Regions from separate parts of the Homo sapiens genome. Here region 2 is linked to region 1. The links come from fine-mapping of genetic effects on gene expression. A gene starts in region 1. The other region holds a variant in brackets. All regions are shown on one strand. Distances are between the middles of the regions.

The links. PIP is the estimated chance that this variant, and not a neighbour inherited with it, causes the effect. A credible set is the group of variants that fine-mapping cannot tell apart.
Region 2: its variant is the best candidate, but not a certain one, in a credible set for the expression of RAB5IF in B cells (Fairfax 2012, PIP 0.61).

Annotation. Positions count from the first base shown.
Region 1 is chr20:36,604,110-36,608,109 of GRCh38, reverse strand. RAB5IF (RAB5 interacting factor) reads right to left here and starts at 2,331. Exons shown (of 4, transcript NM_018840.5): 1 at 2,045-2,331; 2 at 292-395. The coding sequence starts at 2,158. It overlaps TGIF2-RAB5IF (TGIF2-RAB5IF readthrough), which reads right to left. Exons shown (of 5, transcript NM_001199535.2): 3 at 292-395. RefSeq lists enhancers at 1-1,186, 2,538-2,677, 3,408-3,457 and silencers at 2,028-2,337, 3,017-3,416.
Region 2 is chr20:36,583,366-36,587,365 of GRCh38, reverse strand. All of the region lies in intron 2 of TGIF2 (TGFB induced factor homeobox 2), which reads right to left. All of the region lies in intron 2 of TGIF2-RAB5IF (TGIF2-RAB5IF readthrough), which reads right to left. Among named protein-coding and RNA genes, the nearest start is that of TGIF2-RAB5IF, 11 kb to the right of the region's middle. RefSeq lists an enhancer at 899-1,888. The variant A/TA (reference allele first, on the strand shown) is at 1,901.

The sequences.
Region 1 (4,000 bases):
GTGCATGCCACGAACAAGTAGTCATAGCCTCTTGCATGAGGTCACTTTAGACCCATGAATGAATGGACTGGCCCAGCCTTCAGGAAGGCAGGAAGGTAACCTGCCTGACCTGAGATGCTCCTGAGGAGTGGTGCACCAGACCCAGGAGTGCCACTGTAGGGCTGCTTCTTTGCTTTAGTCATCACACACACACACAGCTCCAGAGCAGCAATGGCCTTTCCTGTAACAGGAAAAAAAGCCTCTATTTAAAAAGAAATGATACCATGAAAATATAAGATACCCAAGACTTACCCTGCTATTCCCAAGAACCCTCGTAATGGCAAAACTCCCCAAATGACACCCAGGACCACAGCAATGATCTGTCGGAACCAGTAGATCACATCTAAAAATTCATCCTGTAGAAAAGACAGAAAATGCAAGAATTATCTGGAGTGGGTGCCACAAGACAGCAAAAGGGGAGAATATTAAACCTTTCTGCTAAACATATCCAGGAAATTTGTTTCCCCCCAAAGGCAACAGTATGTGCTTCCTGTTTCACCTCTTACTTATACTAAAATGTGGTAGAAATGATACATTTAGGGGCTGGGCGTGGTGGCTGAAGCCTGTAATCCCAGCACTTTGGGAGGCCGAGGCGGGTGGATCACCTGATGTCAGGAGTTCAAGACCAGCCCGGCCAACATGGTGAAACCCTGTCTCTACTAAAAATACAAAAAATTAGCCGGGTGTTGTGGCGGGCGCCTTTAATCCCAGCTACTTGGGAGGCTGAGGCAAGAGAATTGCTTGAACCTGGGAGGTGGAGGTTGCAGGGCAACAAGAGTGAAACTCCGTCTCAAAAAAAAAAAAAAAAAAAGATACATTTAGACATCATTAAGCGATCACTTCCAGAATCTGTGCTCTAAATCAAAATTCTAGAGGTGCATATATAATATGGCCTGTAATGAAATGACTGTGATAATAATTGTGCTACTGGCCGCACATACGGATTAGAACCATAAATGCTGGAGGCAGGTGCCACTATATTTAAGTTTAATGGAAGAACACAGACGACTCAGGTTTCTGATCTGCCCTAGATTCCAGAAACCAGTCCTTATACAAGAAAAGAAAGAAATGACACAGCAGATTAGAGACTGCAGGTTTTGCAAGAGCTGGGCAGGGCTGGGGGCAGAACAAGGGCACCTTCAGGAAGTGCCTCCCATCCCCCTTTACAGGAACTTCAGGAAGGAAAATCCACTTCGGCAGCCCAGAAAACCAAGAAATGACTGCAAATATAATACGCTTTTCAAGCTACCTGGAATCAAGCTGTTTGTGATGGCCCCTTCCAGATCATGGAGCAGAGTTACGAAGCATCCTCCGAATGGGACGAGTAAGAACGTTCTGAAGTCCCAACCAATTCTCGCACATATCTGGTGGCGTTTCTCCACCCCCACACCTCACACTCACCCAGCGGGTGGTCTCAGTCTCCCCTCTTGACTCATGCTTATCAAAGTATTCGGTCCTTTACATTCAACAAGCAACAGCAGCTCAAGATTAGCGAGCCTCACTATGTGCAAAAGGCTTTAATGTACCACAGTACCCCACTTCAGAGTTATTCTGAGTTAAACGAGATTCCGCTTGCAGAGCACCTGGCACGTAGAAAGCATTCTCAGCAGAAGTCTGTTACTGTTAATGTTTGTGCTACTTAATTCGAAAGAAACAAGTAACCTACTCAAAACCCTACTGCACATAAAAGGCGGAGGCCGAATCGAATTCAGCTCCCTTTCCCAGTTCAGGCACAAACCCTGCCCGCGAATGACAACGCCTCTCCCCGCTCCTCGCCAATTCCGCATAACTAGGGGGCTTCATCCTTAGGCCACCCTTCGGGGAGCTCCAAGCCCAGCTGTCCGCCCAGTGCCCGCCAAGTTTGCTCTGACACCCTTGGGCCACCCGCCCCACTGCCCTACTCGATTGTGCCGGAACGAGGACGAGGGCAGGCCCGCGCCAGTCTTCCGTTCCCCGAGTCCCAGCCGACTCCTCGCACCCGCGCCCTGTTCAGACTCCACCGTACCTTATCCTCCCAGGCCGCGTCGCTCCGCAGCACCTTACTCCAGACGGAGACTTTGAGGGCCCCGTTGGCCAGCTGCGGCTGAGGCGGCTCCTCCTTCCGCCGCCCGCCGCTCATCCTCCCGTCGCGCCGCCCGGGCCGGGCCTGGGGCGCGCGGGCTGAGCCAAAGGGAGTCGGGGTCTAGGGTCGCAGGTCACGGCGCGGGGCGGCTGCAGGCTCAGCGGCCCGGTCCTGCGGCGCGCTGCGGTTCCTCACAACCTGGCCAAGCTACCCGGTTCCGCCGGCTCTACAGAGCAGGCGCCGCGAAGGGAGGGGCGGTGCAGTGTCGCGCGCCCTCCCGCCGACGTGCTCACGCAGCCAATCGGCGACCGCGAAGCCATCCGAGTGAAACAGCGACCGGCGCCTTGGCGCAAGCGCGCTACTCGTGGCGGAAATGACGTCAGCATCCGCCGGGCTCGCGGTAAGGTGTGAGGGGAGGGACAATCTTGGTAGAACGGTGACATGGGCGCCAGGAGGCGCTGTGGAGACCGAGGAGGTAGGGGAAAACCGAGGCTGGACGTCAGCGTCGCCCAGTCGGCCACAGCTGCCCCTCGAGCAGCGAGTGGGGCAGGAGCGGCTCTACCTTTCCTTGCGACCTACTCGCCTGCTGAGCCCAGACCTTGCTCCAGGGTAGCTCCAAGCTGCCCCACAGGATTTAGCCCGCTTATTTTCTCCCCTAACCCTGCAAGTTCTGTAGGGCCTTGTTGAAGATGTTAACTCTTCTGTAATAACTAACCATTTCATCTTGCCCAGCACCCTCTTTTGGCACACGAGAGCCCTGAGACCCCAAAAGAGGAAATGAGATTCTGAGGCCGTATAGCAAGGTGGACCCAACCGGGGACTCCTGGGCGGCAAATACAAGGATTGGGTTAGGTATCAGGATATCTGAGTGTTCACATACAGCGTCCTCACCATGTGCTGCGTCAGTGGTTCACAAAGTGAGCTTCCGGATCAGCAGCGGCCGTATCGCCTGGGAACTGGGTAGAGGCGCAGGTTCTCGGCCCCCATTCCACGCCTACTGACTCAGAACCCCTGGGGATGGGGCTCCTTCCGGTGGCCCTCCAGGTGGTGCCAGGCTCACTGTGCTGGTAAGTCCAGAGACCAAGGCACATCCCTTCTGGACAGTGGATTTTTTTTTTTTTTTTTTTTTGAGACGGCACGGTCTCTGCTCACTGCAACCTCCACCTCCCGGGTTCAAGCGATTCTCGTGCCTCAGCCTCCCACGTAGCTGGGATCACAGGCGCCCACTACCACGCTCCACTAGTTTTTTTTGTATTTTAGTAGAGACGGGGGTTTCACTATGTTGCCCAGGCTGGTCTCGAACTCCTGAGCTCAGGCAATCCGCCCATCTTGGCCTCCCAAAGTGCTAGGATTACAGGCGTGAGCCACCTCACCCGGCCTCTGGACAGTGGATTTATAAAGACAAGTAATGTATCTGGTACCTGGGTGTGTCTGACTCCAGAATCTGTGCTCTTAACCGTTAAACTTTAAAGCTGAGAGTATCTTTTTTTTTTTTAAACAGGTCAGAGTATCTTTTGCATACCTATCAACATTCACCTGTAATTCTTCACTTTTCAGGAGTAATAGAACCTCCCTAGGGAGGCCAGGCGCAGTGGCTCACTCCCATAATCCCAGCACTTTGGAAGGCCGAGGTCGGTGGATCACTTGAGGTCAGGAGTTCGAGACCAGCCTGGCCAACATGGTTGAAAGCCCGTCTCTACTAAAAATGCAAAAAAAATTAGCCGGGCGTGGTGGTGGGGACCTGTAATCCCAGCTTCTCAGGAGGCTCGAGGCATGAGAATTGTTTGAACCTGGGAGGTGGAGGTTGCAGTGAGCCAAGATCGCGCCATTGCACTCCAGCCTGGGCAACAGAGCAAGACTTGGTCTCAAAAACAAAACAAAAAACAAACAAAAAACCTC
Region 2 (4,000 bases), 21 kb after region 1:
GTGTGGGCACCTAGCCCCTAAAGGCACTTCCCACTTTGGCTGAGGGTTCAAGAACAGAAAAACACCCCTCCACACACTCCCCCACAAGACTGTCCTGTCCAGATCACTTGGCAGCCTAGCATCTGTCTGTTTTGTCTTCTTAGCCCAGAAAAATGCACAGCTGAGGGGCTGGGCAAGGCAACGCGGGGGGACTGAGTGGCTGCCAGTGCCCCTTCTGCAGCCCTTCCAGCTGCCCAGCCTGTGCCTAAGTCAGGAAAAGAACCTGTGACTTGTCTCCACTCAAGGTCCTTGGGGAGATGGTAGGAAGAAGGTCAAAGTGAACTCTGTGATGTATATGGCAAAACACAGGCTGGGAACCGGAAAGCCGGTCTCTACCATAAAACAGGGCTCTATCTGAGAGGCTGCTGAGGAACAAGGGAGGAATCACTGTGGCAAATGGGGGTGGGAGGAACACCAGGAGGCTGACAAAGGCTGTGATGCTGGGAGCAGCAGCTAATGAATGCAGGCAGAAACCCTCTCATTTTTGTGTCAAGGAAGCAAAGGCACTGAGGCGCCTTTCCCAAACATCATGGTACCACCATTCACACTGAGACTACCATATCCAGGTGCTCTTGAAGGCAGCTCTCTGTATTAGAATCACCTTAGGGGAGATTTTTTTTTTTGGGGGGGGGGAAATGGAGTCTCACTTCTTTGCCCAGGCTGGAGTGCAATGGTGCGATCTCAGTTCACTGCAACCTCCGCCTCTCGGGTTCAAGCAGTTCTCCTGCCTCAGCCTCCCAAGTACCTGGGATTACAGGCACACGACAACATGCCCAAGTAATTTTTGTATTTTTAATAGAGACAGGGTTTCACCGTGTTGGCCAGGCTGGTCTCAAACTCCTGACCTCAAGTGATCTGCCCGCTTTGGCCTCCCAAAGTGCTGGGATTACAGGCAGAGCAACCACACCCAGCCTGGGAGAGATTTTTAAAAACTGTTAGTGATTTCCCCCTCTGCTTTATTGATCTAGTGGGGGTGAGGGGTGGAGTTGGCAATGTGTTTTCAGACCAGCTACCCAGAAAGTCTGGCCGCCCAGGCTTAGGAACCAATGGTTTAGCCTACTGGTTACTTGTCCTTGCAGGCCAAGCCCTTTATTTAAGCCAAAAAGCTTACACAGAAGTTCAAAAAACATACACACAGATGAAAGGCCTTGAGATGGGGAAAAATAGAAGTTGCCTGTGGGAGGAATCAGAGGGCAGCTAGCTTTGGAGCCAGAGGAGAGCAGCTCCTACATCCCTGGCTGCCCTGGGGGCTAGGCCAGGACACTCCTCCCCCACAGCTGACCACTACAGCCTCTGCACCAGGTTCCTTTCTCACCCAACAGCCCTCGCCAGGGGGACTGCTGCCCCTGCCCCGGTATGGGCTTTGGGAAGGCTTCCCTCAGGAAACTGCATATGAAAGGAGTCCTGACAGCCAGGAAGTAATGGGAAGGTACCCATTCTACCACTGTATACCCAGCACAGAGTCCCGGGCCTGGCACGTGGTATATCCCCAACCATTGTTACAGTAAAGGATTGGGGCCCAGAACCCTGCCAGGTAGCCACAGATCTAGTCCAACCAATAAATTGGGCTTAGAGGATGTCGAAGGGACCTGTGAAAATCCTTTACAAACTACTTTTTTCCCTAACCCTCCCAACTGCCTAGCCCCAGGCAAGTACCAGCAAACCAGTTAGTTGAGTCATTGACTTGCTAATGAATCGCTCCTGGGAGGGTTAAAGGAGACAATCAAAAGAGATGTCCCCAGGGAGAGATAAAACAAGCTTGGCAAAATGTTGATACTTGTTCAAGCCGAGTGACTGGTGCTGGTGGTTGATTATTATATTCTCTTACTTTTGTGGAGTTTTTTTTTTTTTTTTTTTTTTT[A/TA]AAGACAGAGTCCCGTTCTGTAGACCAGGCTGGAGTGCAGTGGCATGATCTTGGCTCCCTGCAACCTCCACCACCCCCGGGTTCAAGTGATTCTCCTGCTTCAGCCTCCCGAATAGCTGGGACTATTTTTAGTAGAGACGGGGTTTCACCACATTGGTCAGACTGGTCTACAACTCCTGGCCTCAAGTGATACACCCGCTTCAGCCTCCCAAAGTGTTGGGATTACAGGCGTGAGACACTGTGCCTAGCTTTTTTCTCTTTTTTTTTGAGATGGAGTTTCACTCTTGTTGCCCAGGCTGGAGTGCAATGGCAGGATCTCGCTCACGGCAATCTCCACCTCCTAGGTTCAAAAGTGATTCTCCTGCCTCAGCCTCCTGAGTAGCTGGGAGTACAAGCATGCGCCACCATGCCCAGCTAATTGTCTATTTTTTAGTAGAGATGGGGTTTCTCCGTGTTGGTCAGGCTGGTCCCAAACTTCCAACCCCAGGTGATCCGTTTGCCTCGGCCTCCCAAAGTGCTGGAATTATAGGTGTGAGCCACTGTGCCCAGCCTGCGTTCAGCTTTTATAGATATTCTTAAATGTCCTTAATGGAAAATGAAATTTAAAAAATTAAATACAGGAGGCCGGGAGCAGTGGCTCACGCCTGTAATCCCAGCACTTTGGGAGGCTGAAGTGAGACCACCTGAGGTCGGGAGTTCGAGACCAGCCTGGCCAAAATGGTGAAACCCTGTCTTTACTAAAACTACAAAAATTAGCTCAGCCTGGTGGCAGGTGCCTGTAATCCCAGCTACTCGGGAGGCTGGGGCAGGAGAATTGCTTGAACCTGGGCAGCAGAAGTTGCAGTGAACTGAGATTGCGCCACTGCACTCCAGCCTGGGCGACAGAGTGACTCCGTCTCAAAAAAAAAAAAAATTAATTAATAAATACAGGAAAAAATGATGCTCCCAGGCTTTAGGCTATTTTTCATGATTAGGAGCCATTACATTTCCTTACTTCTGAGGTCCTGCCTGTTGACCCTTCCACCACTTTATAGCCCTTTTCTGCCACTTCAACATTATTTACTGAGCACCTACCTACCAGATACCAAGCACTATGCTACACTAGGGCTGTAACTGTGAACACTAGGTCAGTGCTCTCCACACCTCTAGAATTTGGTGCAGTCTAAAAGCAATTACAGTTTAGTGTCCCAGTGCTGTGACCTCATCTATCTGCTGTGAGAGCATACAGCTCCTTTAGGGACTGGGAGCCTCCTGGTCAGGGGTGGGAGGAAAATGGTCTGGGGAGGTGGATCAATGTAGTGGGAATGTAGGGGACCAGGGTTGAGGTTCAAGATGTAGACACGGGCCGGTGATGTCATTAGGCTGGCAAAAGCCATTGAATTTTTTTTTCTTTTTTTTTGAGATGGACTCTTGCTCTGTTGCCCAGGCAGGAGTGCAATGGTGCAATCACAACTCACTACAACCTCTGCCTCCCGAGTTCAAGCAATTCTCTTGCCTCAGCCTCCTAAGTAGCTGGGATTACAGGTACCTGCAACCACGCCCAGCTAGTTTTTTTTTCTTTTCTTTTTTGAGACAGAGTCTCAGTCTGTTGCCCCGGCTGGAGTGCGGTGGCTCAGTCTCGGCTCATTCCAACTTCCGTTTCCCAGGTTCAAGCAATTATCCTGCCTCAGTCTCCCAAGTAGCTGGGATTACAGGCACACAGCACCACACCTGGTTAATTTTTGTATTTTTAGTAGAGACGGGGTTTCGCCATGTTGGCCAGGCTGGCCTCAAACTCCTGACCTCAGGTGACCCACCCGCCTCAACCTCCCAAAGTGCTGGGATTATAGGCATGAGCCACTGCGCCCAGCCTAATTTTTTTTATTTTTAGTAGGACAAGGTTTCACCAAGTTGGCCAGGTAGGTCTCCAACTCCTTACCTCAGGTAATCCACCCGCCTTGGCCTCCCAAAGTGCTGGGATTACAGGCATAAGCCACAGTGCCCAGCCTTTTTTTTTTTTTTCTTTTTAGAGATAGGGTCTTGCTCTGTCACCTAGGCTGGAGGGCAGTGGCATGATCATAGCTCACTGTAGCCTTGAACTCCTGGGCTCAAGAAAGTCTC